3 linked regions of the Homo sapiens genome follow. The protein of the gene in region 1 purifies or fractionates together with the protein of each later gene. This does not show direct contact. Each region holds a gene or a part of one and is shown in the gene's direction. Other genes may lie near its edges.

The links.
Region 2: the proteins of CNN2 (region 1) and ALAD purify together in Homo sapiens (affinity purification with mass spectrometry; 2 studies listed by BioGRID and IntAct, with this or other methods). This does not show direct contact.
Region 3: the proteins of CNN2 (region 1) and ATE1 purify together in Homo sapiens (affinity purification with mass spectrometry; 3 studies listed by BioGRID and IntAct, with this or other methods). This does not show direct contact.

What each region holds. Positions count from the first base shown.
Region 1 is NC_000019.10:1,036,557-1,039,664, forward strand, and holds the end of CNN2 (calponin-2), read left to right. Parts: coding exon 1-6; intron 7-1,068; coding exon 1,069-1,344; 3' UTR 1,345-2,509; downstream 2,510-3,108. UniProt on the Homo sapiens protein: Thin filament-associated protein that is implicated in the regulation and modulation of smooth muscle contraction. It is capable of binding to actin, calmodulin and tropomyosin. The interaction of calponin with actin inhibits the actomyosin Mg-ATPase activity.
Region 2 is NC_000009.12:113,394,576-113,398,325, reverse strand, and holds part of ALAD (delta-aminolevulinic acid dehydratase), read left to right. Parts: exon of another isoform or gene 1-248; intron 249-1,051; exon of another isoform or gene 1,052-1,280; intron 1,281-1,870; exon of another isoform or gene 1,871-2,868; coding exon of another isoform or gene 2,869-2,919; intron 2,920-3,750.
Region 3 is NC_000010.11:121,900,401-121,904,150, reverse strand, and holds part of ATE1 (arginyl-tRNA--protein transferase 1), read left to right. Parts: intron 1-1,530; coding exon 1,531-1,760; intron 1,761-3,750. UniProt on the Homo sapiens protein: Involved in the post-translational conjugation of arginine to the N-terminal aspartate or glutamate of a protein. This arginylation is required for degradation of the protein via the ubiquitin pathway. Does not arginylate cysteine residues.

The sequences.
Region 1 (3,108 bases):
AGCCAGGTGGGGCTCGCCCGGGTGCCCCCGACTCCTCTCCCTGCCCCTCTACACCCTGTGGTCTCGGCCCCTCCCTGGGGCCACCTCCAGCTTCTCTCCCCACTCTCAGTCTCAGCCCCTTCCCTAGACCACCTCCGGCTTCCCTCCCCGCTCTCTGTCTCCGCCTTGGATTTCAGCCTCTGTCATTTCCACCTGGCTGTGGGTCTCTAGGGAAGTTACTACCTCACCCTGTGTCATTTTCCCTTAAGGACTGCCCAAAGGTCCACCCAATTCTTTTTTTTTAATCTTTATTTATTTTATTTATGTATTTATTTTGAGATAGGATCTCACTCTGTTGTCCAGGCTGGAGTGCAGTGGCACGATCTCGGCTCACTGCAACCTCTGCCTCCCGGGTTCAAGAGATTCTCCTTCCTGCCTCAGCCTCCCGAGTAGCTGGGACTACAGGTGCATGCTGCCACACCCGGCCAATTTTTGTATTTTTAGTAGACATGGGGTTTCACCATGTTGCCCAGGCTGGTCTCGAACTCCTGAGCTCAGGCAATCCACCCGCCTTGACCTCCCAAACTGCTAGGGTTACAGGTGTGAGCCACCGCACCCGGCCACACCCAGCTAATTTTTGTATTTTTAGTAGAGACGGGGTTTCACTGTGTTGGTCAGGCTAGTCTTGAACTCCTGACCTCAGGTGATCCTCCCACCTCAGCCTCCCGAGTAGCTGAGACTACAGGCGCCCGCCACCACGCCCGGCTAATTTTTGTATTTTTAGTAGATATGGGGTTTCACCGTGTTGGCCAGGCTGGTCTTGAACTTCTGACCTCAGGTGATCCTCCCACCTCAGCCTCCCGAGTAGCTGGGATTACAGGCATGTGCCACCACGCCCAGCTAATTTTGTATTTTTGGGAGAGACAGGGTTTCACCGTGTTGGCCAGGCTGGACTGGAACTCCTGACCTCAGGTGATCCTCCCACCTTGGCCTCCCAAAGTGCTGGGATTACAGGCGTGAGCCAGTGCACCCAGTGAAGGTCCCCTCTTCTCTCCACCATGACCTGCTCCACCCCTCCTTCCTCTCCAGGTGGGCATGACGGCTCCCGGGACCCGGCGGCACATCTATGATACCAAGCTGGGAACCGACAAGTGTGACAACTCCTCCATGTCCCTGCAGATGGGCTACACGCAGGGCGCCAACCAGAGCGGCCAGGTCTTCGGCCTGGGCCGGCAGATATATGACCCCAAGTACTGCCCGCAAGGCACAGTGGCCGATGGGGCTCCCTCGGGCACCGGCGACTGCCCGGACCCGGGGGAGGTCCCTGAATATCCCCCTTACTACCAGGAGGAGGCCGGCTACTGAGGCTCCCAGCACGCTCTCTCCCCACATCGTCTGCCCATCTGGGTTTTTGGGTTTTTCTGTGTTTTCATCTTTTTTTTTTTTTTCTTAACCCGTTCAGTGCTGCCAGTCAACCAAGGGTCTGTGAGTGTCAGCGTGGGATCAGGCAGCAGAGCTTTTTTCCCCTTTGCCTTGATCCTTCGCAAGGCTGAGCCACTGGGCTGTGGGGGAAGGGGTCAAGGCCATATCCCAATACGTGTAGGGCGAGGGTCCCTGCTGGCACATTCAGGCTGTGCTGGGAAGAAGAGACCTGGGCTTGGAAGGAACCGGTCCCCGACGGTTTCTGCTTGCCTCGCCTCTTCCCCCTTTTGTCAGCTGAGCAGTTTGTGGTTTCTATGCCCGCAAGTTTCAGGAAGTATTCACAAAAGAAAAATACATTTTTTCCCCCAGGGGTGGGGCAAGGACAGTGGAGAGAGTGCTAGGAAATGAGTCCCCTGGGAAAGGGGACCGGGCCGTGATGTTAAATATCTCCGGCTCCCAAGTGACTGGATTTGCCTAGGACCTTCAGACCAACAGACTTCAGACCCTCAGACCTGCCCCGGGGCCAGGTGGAGAAAGTGAGGGCCGTACAAGGAAGTGAAATTCTGAGTTGTTGGGGCTAAGCCTGACCCCCTCTCCATGCTCCCCGCCCCAACCCACTCTGGCCTCAGTAGATTTTTTTTTCAGTTGTGGTTGTTGCCCAGGCTGGAGTGCAGTGGCGCCATCTTGGCTCACTGCACCTCCACCTTCCGGGCTCAAGCGATTCTCCAGCCTCAGCCTCCTGAGTAGCTAGGACTGCAGGTGCTCCACCACGCCCGGCTAATTTTTGTATTTTTAGTAGAGATGGGGTTTCCCCATGTTGGCCAGGCTGGTCTCGAACTCCTGGCCTCAGGTGTGATCCGCCCGCCTCCGCCTCCCCAAGCGCTGAGATTACAGGTGTGAGCCACCGTGCCCAGCCCCTCAGTAGGTTTTAAGGAGCCCCCAGCCCTCCTCCCTTCTGGGCCCGACCAGCTTATACTGCTCCATCTTCCCCGGCCACATGCCCCGCCAAGTACTGCACAGGGACCCCCCACCCAGGGGACCTGCTCCGTGAGATAATGTGAAATACGACTGTGGACCAAACGCAATAAAACCTCTGTTTGTACGAAGAGAAGGTGGCCAAGAGAGTTGGCGTCGATGAGGGCGTGCTTTGCTTTGATGCTTTTGTGGGGAGAGAGGAGGTCTTGGGGGATGGGGGGATCAAGGGGAAAATGTCCACCTCACCATTGGGAGGAGGAGCAAAAGCTGAAGCCACAGGTGAGTCTGGGTGGAATGAATGATTTGAAGGGCCGGGACTTGGGGTAGAGGGAGAGGCTGGGCTTCCTGGCCATTTGGAGAAGAGGCAGTTCCCTCAAATGCCCCCCATGCGCTTTGGCTGCACTCTACCTTACAGCGCAAGTCTCGTGGCCTCAGCCTGGATGTCTCCCCGTTGGCGAACTCCTATTTATCCTCAAAGCCCCAACGGCAATGCCACCTCCTGCCGCGGGAGCCGTCCCCACGCCTCTCACTCTCCCCAGCGCCTTCAAAGCTGTGGACCCACACGCTCCCATTTCAGCTTCACCTCCAGCCTGAAGAGTTTATTTCAACTCTTCTTCCAGAGTGGGAAACGGGTTTTCCTCAAAATCAGGGTAGCCACTATAATCGGAGACTCTAGAATGTTGGCCCCCTCCCCCTCCTGCCATCCTCTGCAGAAGCCGAGGAGCGTTCGTG
Region 2 (3,750 bases), on another chromosome or scaffold:
CCTCTCTTCAACATCTGACTAGACTCTAGAATGGCATTAAGCAAGTCACTGAACCGCTCAGAGCCTCTGTTTCCTTATCACTAAAAGTTAGGACAATTCTTGCAATGAAATGAGATACTACTACCAAGTACTTCAGTGCTGTGCCCAGCACAGAACGAATACACTCAGTATGTTTTTCTTTTGTTTCTTCTGTCTCTCCAGCACCCAAAGCAGAAACAGTATGGGCAGAGAGACGCCTACTGAATCAGGTGTTTATCAGTATTATGAAATACAGTATATAAAACCCAGCATTTGGAGTCCAGAACAAATTCAAATTCTGGCTCAGTCACTAAGTAGCTATGTGGTCTTGGGCAACTGGCTTACATTTTGGTAATTCTCTCAATATGCAAAAATATTCTCTCGGCCAGGTGCGGTGGCTCACGCCTGTAATCCCAGCACTTTGGGAGGCAGAGGCGGGCGGATCACTTGAAGTCAGGAGTTTGAGACCAGCCTGGCCAACATGGCGAAACCCTGTCTCTACTAAAAATACAAAAATTAGCCAAGCATGGTCATGCATGCCTGTAGTCCCATCTATTTGGGAGGCTGAGGCAGGAGAATCACTTGAACCCAGGAGGTGGAGGTTGCAGTGAGCCGAGATCGAACCACTGCACTCCAGCTTGGGTGACAGAGCCAGACTCTGTCTCAAAAAAAAAAAAAAAAAAAAAAGAAAAGGAAAAAAAACTCCTGGCAGACATGAGAGCAAAATCGAGTACGAAATGGGCAGCTGGGACCTCATATCTACTGAATAATTGTCTGTTTGGAGGTTGAGACATGACTGGGGAGGCCTGGCCTGCCCCTGTGTTAGGTGATGGGGCTGGCCCACCCAGGGGTGTGGCAGCAGGGCTGGCCCCTGTGTGACTTGTGATAACCCCACCCTACCAAGGAGGAAGACTGGATAAAATGGGCCCCTGAGATGGCTGAAGGCAGCTAAAGGGGCCTAAGAGACTATGGGGAGAAGGGCAGCCAGTTCCTAGGCAGCCCTGCCCCACTGTTTCTGATAAGCAGGAGGCAGTTGTTCCCTCAGCCTCCTGAAAGCAATGAGGAGTTGAGGCCACGGGAATGCAGCTTTGGATTCCAGAAGCCAAGGACCTGTTACAAAGGTGGTTTTCTGGGAAGCAAATTAGAGGGATTAGACCTGGCTTCGACATCTGACTTGACTCCAACCTACCAAAGGATCTCCCAGTTCACCTGGGAGTTAACACACCAGGGTTCTAGTCCTTTTGCTCGCTGTGTGGCTTTGGGTAAGTCCTTGCCCCTCTCTGGACCTTGAGGTCCCATTCATACAAAAAGCAGTTGGACTCAGGCCTGCCAGCCCCCATTTTTGTGGCTCTTCCCCGCCCCTCCCCATCCTTTGGCTATGGGATAGTCTCCCAGGCACCTCCAAAAGGAAGTGTCTAAAACAGAGCTCTCCACCTCCTCTCCAAGCCCAGCTCCCCACTGCCCTCTTCCTGCCCTGTCCCTGTCTCCGCTGCCCTTTAGATCAGGCAGGCAGGCAGGCCTAGAGCATCCGCCCTGAGACACTGCCTGTTGGCTGCCTTAAGACGCCCCTTCCTTCTCTGCCCGCAGCCTCCCCAGCCTCTGCATTCCTCTGCTTCCTGTCTGCTCTGCTCAGCCTGCAGGATTGATCTTCCCAAAGCCAGGTGTCAACCAGGCCACTAACCCTACCCACTGCTCAGAAATCTTCCCACAGCCTCAGCCTGGCCCCCTCTTATCCATCCCCTCCATACACACTTGCCTCAGCTCCTCAAAACAGTCCACAGCCATCCTCCTTCCCCACCTTTGCCCCTTTCTTCCCTTCCTAAGGAAATATTGGCCCCCTTCTCTCCACCAGGCTGAACCCACTCATCCTGCAAAACCAAGTTCAACGCCCTGTCATTTTCTTTTTTTTTTTTTTTTTTGAGATGGAGTCTCACACTGTCGCCCAGGCTAGAGTGCAATGGGTGCACTCTCGGCTCACTGCAACCTCTGCCTCCTAGGTTCAATCGATTCTTCTGCCTCAGCCTCCAGAGGAACTCTGACTACAGGTGCACACCACCACACCCAGCTAATTTTTGTATTTTTATTTTTATTTCTATTTATTTATTTATTGTGAGATGGAGTTTCTCTCTTGTTGCCCATGCTGGAGTGCAATGGCACGATCTCGGCTCATTGCAACCTCCGCCTCCCAAGTTCAAAGGATTCTCCTATCTCAGCTTCTGAAGTAGCTGGGATTACAGGCATGTGCCACCACACCCGGCTAATTTTTTTTTATTTTTAGTAGAGATGGGGTTTCACCATGTTGGTCAGGCTGGTCTCAAACTCCTGACCTCAAGTGATCCACCCACCTCGGCCTCCCAAAGTGCTGGGATTACAGGCGTGAGCCACCGTGCCTGGCCTAATTTTTGTATTTTTAGTAGAGACGGAGTTTCACCACATTGGCCAGCCTGGTCTCAAACTCCAGACCTCAAGTGATCCACCCGCCTCAGCCTCCCAAAGTGCTGGGGTTACAGGTGTGAGCCACTACGCCTGGCGCCTGTCTTCTTCTAATATGCCTCTTCTGACCTCCTCACTCCCATTGGAGCCATGGCTCACTTCTGGTCAGGCTCCATGCACTCAATCAGCCCTGCCTGCCAGGACTGTAGTGCCCACTTGATGAGAAATCACCTGTGAAAATGCCAGGCATGGTCTGGCACACAGTAGGTGCTCAAGAAACAAATGTTAATGCCCCAGCTTCCTTCTGTCTTGTGTCCACTAATTTGGCATTTGGAGCATATTTTTGTACTTCACGTAATTAAATATTTACTGTGTGCCAAGGTCAGTGTGTGACAGAGCACTGTAGGGGAGGCAAAAATGAACCAACTCTGGACCTTGCCCTGCAGAAGCTCTGTCTACTGGCATGAGGTAAGACAGGTCCACAGATAACTTACATAAGAGAGACTGCAATCTGGACAAGACAGCCTCAGTGGGAGAGGGAAGGAGAACCCTGTAGATTTGGGTGCGGGGAGGCTGTGGGGAGAGCACAGCCTTTCAGGTAAAGGGACAAGGTTAGGAAAGCAAGAAGGTGTAGCTTGTGCTCGTGGAGCCCAGGAAACTCCTTGGGCTAGAAAAGATTTGGTGGCACTCTATACAGTGTATGTGTCTGTCTGTCTATCTAACATGAATGGTACTATTTTCTCCTATTGGTGTGCATTGTACCTAACAAAAAATCCATGTCCCAAGTACTTTTCTCTTTTCTTTCTTTCTTTTTTTTTTTGGAATGAAGTCTTGCTCTGTCGCCCAGGCTGGAGTGAAGTGGCGCTATCTCGGCTTACTGCAACCTCCTCCTCCTGGATTCAAGCAGTTCTCCTGCCTCAGCCTCCCCAGTAGCTGGGATTACAGGCACGCACCACCACGCCCAGCTAATTTTTTTTGTATTTTTAGTAGAGGTGGGGTTTAACTGTGTTGGCCAGGCTGGTCTCGAACTCCTGACCTCAAGTGATCTGCCCATCTCAGCCTCCCAAAGTGCTGAGATTATAGGTGTGAGCCGCCATGCCCGGCCAACAGTACTTTTCTCTAGAGGTAGAATTGCAGGGGATTTTTCTCTTTTTGCTTATCTGCACTTTTCTAAAAGTTCTGCCATGAACACGGGCATTTTTTGTGGAATAAACAAAGTTTAAATGTTGGCTAGATCAGTGCTTCTTTATGCATAAGGAAGGATTAGTTCTTTTTTTTCTATTTCCAATTTATTGATTC
Region 3 (3,750 bases), on another chromosome or scaffold:
ATTAGCCAGGCATGGTGGCACACACCTGTATTCCCAGCTACTCTGGAGGCTGAGGCAGGAGAATTGCTCGAATGGTCCGGTAGGCAGAGGTTGCAGTGAGCTCAGATGGCGCCACTGCACTCCAGCCTGGGTGACAGAGCGAGACTCTGTCTCAAAAAAAAAAAAGAAAATTTGGAGAAAAGAGAACACTACAAAGAAAGGTAAATCCTGTCTCTGTTTCTGAAACAAAGTAAAATGACTGTTACCATGGTGTCTCCTTTCCAGGTTTTTTTCTAAGTATTTTTATTTAGTTTATAATAGTAAAAATTTTTTTATTTTAAAGGGATGTCAGTTTGATATTTGGTCTGTTAATTAGAACAAAACTCTGATTAACTACAGCTGAACTAATGAGACCCAAATACCTGCAGTATTTGGAGAAAGACACAGATACCTTCAACTAAGCAAGGATTCCTTTTTTGTTTTTTGAGACAGAGTCTCACTCTGTCGCCCAGGCTGGAGTGCAGTGGTGCCATCTCAGCTCAGCACAACCTCTGCCTCCTGGGTTCAAGTGATTCTAATGCCTCAGCCTCCTGAGTAGCTGGGATTACAGGTGTGTGCTACCACACCTGGCTGATTTTTGTATTTTTAGTAGAAATGGGGTTTCACCATGTTGACCAGGCTGGTCTCGAACTCTCAACCTCAGGTGATCTGCCCGCCTTAGCCCCCCAAAGTGCTAGAATTCCAGGTGCACAAGGATTCTTTTAATTTAAAAAAACCTGTCAGTGTTTGCGCTGGGATCAGTATTCCTTTATACCTGGTTCCTAAGTATTTATGTTACCAGTGCTTTCAGAGAAATGTCCCTCAGAAATGTTGGGCAGAGATAGCAGTGTCCTTTTAATGCAGCAGGTACTTTGATTTGATTGTGTTCTTCCTCACAAAGGCAGAGAAGTGGATGAATGTTTTTTTTTAAAAAAAGATATTTGGGCCGGGCCTGGTGGCTCATTCCTGTAATCCCAGCACTTAGGGAGGCCAAGGTGGGTGAATCACGAGGTCAGGAGTTTGAGACCAGTCTGTCCAAGGGAGTTTGAGACCAGTCTGGCCAACATGGTGAAACTCCATCTCTACTGAAAATACAAAAATTAGCCAGGCACGGTGGCACACACCTGTAGTCCCAGCTACTCGGGAGGTTGAGGCAGGAGAATTGCTTGAACCTGGGAGGCGGAGGTTGCAGTGAGCTGAGATCATGCCATTGCACTCCAGCCTGGGTGACAGAGCGAGACTCTGTCTCAAAAAAAAGAAAAAAAAGATTTTCAGCAGTAAGAGCCACCTTGGAAAGTTTCTGTGCTATTTACTTTCTCTAGCAACTCCCACTTCTAAGGTAGAATTTTAGATCCACTTACAGCTCTGTATCAGGATCCTCTGAAACATCTACCCCAAAGCTAGCCTAACCATTGAAACTCTTTGGACTTACACTGTAGAATCTTTGAGACATGTGAAAAAACTTTTCTAGAACCAAATGTGATTGGTCTAATATTTTAAAATTCTTTTTAGGCAAAGGGGCTGATTTGAGTAAGCCTCCATGTCGAAAAGCAAAGGAAATCCGGAAAGAAAGGAAAAGGTTAAAACTAATGCAGCAGAACCCAGCTGGAGAACTTGAGGGTTTCCAGGCTCAAGGTCACCCACCATCTTTGTTTCCACCAAAGGCTAAATCCAACCAGCCAAAATCACTCGAAGATTTAATTTTTGAGTCTTTACCAGAGAATGCATCACACAAGTTAGAGGTACTTTGGAGGACTTTTGTTGTTTGTTTTATTATGATTTTTTTTTGTTTGGGCATATCGTTTATTTTTATTTGAAGTTCTAATTAGTTGATGTTTGCTAGTTAAATAATGAGAATTTAAAAGAAATTAAAGAGAACTGGGAAGAAGTAACATTTGTATTTACTAAGTTAACTGCTGTTTGAGGGAAACTCCTTTTTTTTTAAAAGACTTTTTGAGAATACATAGTTGGCCACCAAACTTGTGAAAACAGTGTCAATTTTAGCATGCTACCTTGATTGAAATTTAATAGTTAAAATGAAAGAAATACTCTTTAAAATTGTGTTTTTAGCAGTTTTGGTTTAGATAGTGAAAGACAATAGATTACACAAGGCAAATCACTATTTCATCCATTATAATATTCTGATCTTGGTAAAGACAGCAAATGGTGTCATATACATAAGCCAGCAGTTAGGAATTATCTAAATAGGGCTAAATTGTACTGCTGAAATCCTCTCTCATTAGTGCCAAAACCACTTTGGGCATAATATGAATACTTTTAGAGCCAAATTCCTCCATTTTTCCAAATTTATTTTCGTTTCTAGATCAGATCAAGATTTCTCAGTATTAGTTTCTCATATATAAAATTCAAAAACAAGGGCTGGATGTGGTGGCTCACACCTGTAATCCTAGCACTTTGGTAGGCCGAGGCAGGTGGATCTCTTGAGGTCTGGTGTTTGAGATCAGCTTGGCCAACACAGTGAAACCCCGTCTCTACTAAAATATAAAAATTGGCCAGGCGTGGTGGCGTGCACCTGTAATCCCAACTCCTAGAGAGGCTGAGACACCAGAATTGCTTGAACCCAGGAGGTGGAGGTTGTAGCGAGCTGAGATCACACCACTGCACTCCAGCCTGCGTGACAGAGCAAAAGACTGTCTCAAAAAAATTCAAAAACATTAGCCATAATGATTTTTATCTTATTCTCATATGTGATTAGTAACTGGTCAGCCTTTGAATTTTGTAGCTTACTATCATCTAAAAATATCACTTATCACTGAAGTCCTGATAATAAAAATTAACTTTCATGCATTCTAAGCCTTAATTCAGTATATGTATTATCAGACGTAGAATTTAGCTTTTTTTTTTGAGACGGAGTTTCACTCTTGTTGCCTAGGCTGGAGTGCAATGGCGCGATCTCGGCTCACTGCAACCTCTGCCTCCTGGGTTCAAGCGATTCTCCTGTCTCAGCCTTCTGAGTAGCTGGGATTACAAGTGCCCACCACTACGCCCGGCTAATTTCTGATATTTTTAATAGAGACAGGGTTTCACCATGTCAGCCAGGCTGGTCACGAACTCCTGACCTCAGGTGATCACCCGCCTCGGCCTCCCAAAGTGCTGGGATTAGAGGTGTGAGCTACCTTGCCTGGCCAGATTTTAGCTTTTATAACTCCTTGGCTACTCTGATTTGGATACAGATTTTTTTGTCCTTCCAAAATTGTAAACAGAGTTGAATACACTACTTAAAATATTTTACAAGGTGTCTTTTATCTTTGATCATAAATAGTAATGTATTCAGGAGGCCAAGCACGCTTAACATAACAGTTCTCCAGTGGTTACTTGTACTTTTTGAATGTAATGATACTCAGGATGTATAGAGATCTTTTACCACTGGGTGTCGCTCTTTCTTCATAGAATTACGTCTCACGGCACACATGTCCAGTTTCCAGCTGTTTTCATTGCATTGCATTTGACTGTTTTACTGTTCTGTTTTGCTAATACATTTTAAGTGGCTAGTAAATAATGTTAAAGTAAATGTTAGCCATTACTGCGTGCAATTACTGTTTTAAACTTATCCTTATTTTACAAGGTTACTTGACCAAGATGGTGACATTGTAAGATTTGAACAAAGGAAATGTGACTTCAGAGTCATGGTTGTTAACTATGCTATGAAGTAGGAAAACTTTATGAGGTCTTTTTAACTCAAACAGTCAAGTTTTAAGTTGAGGGTTAGCA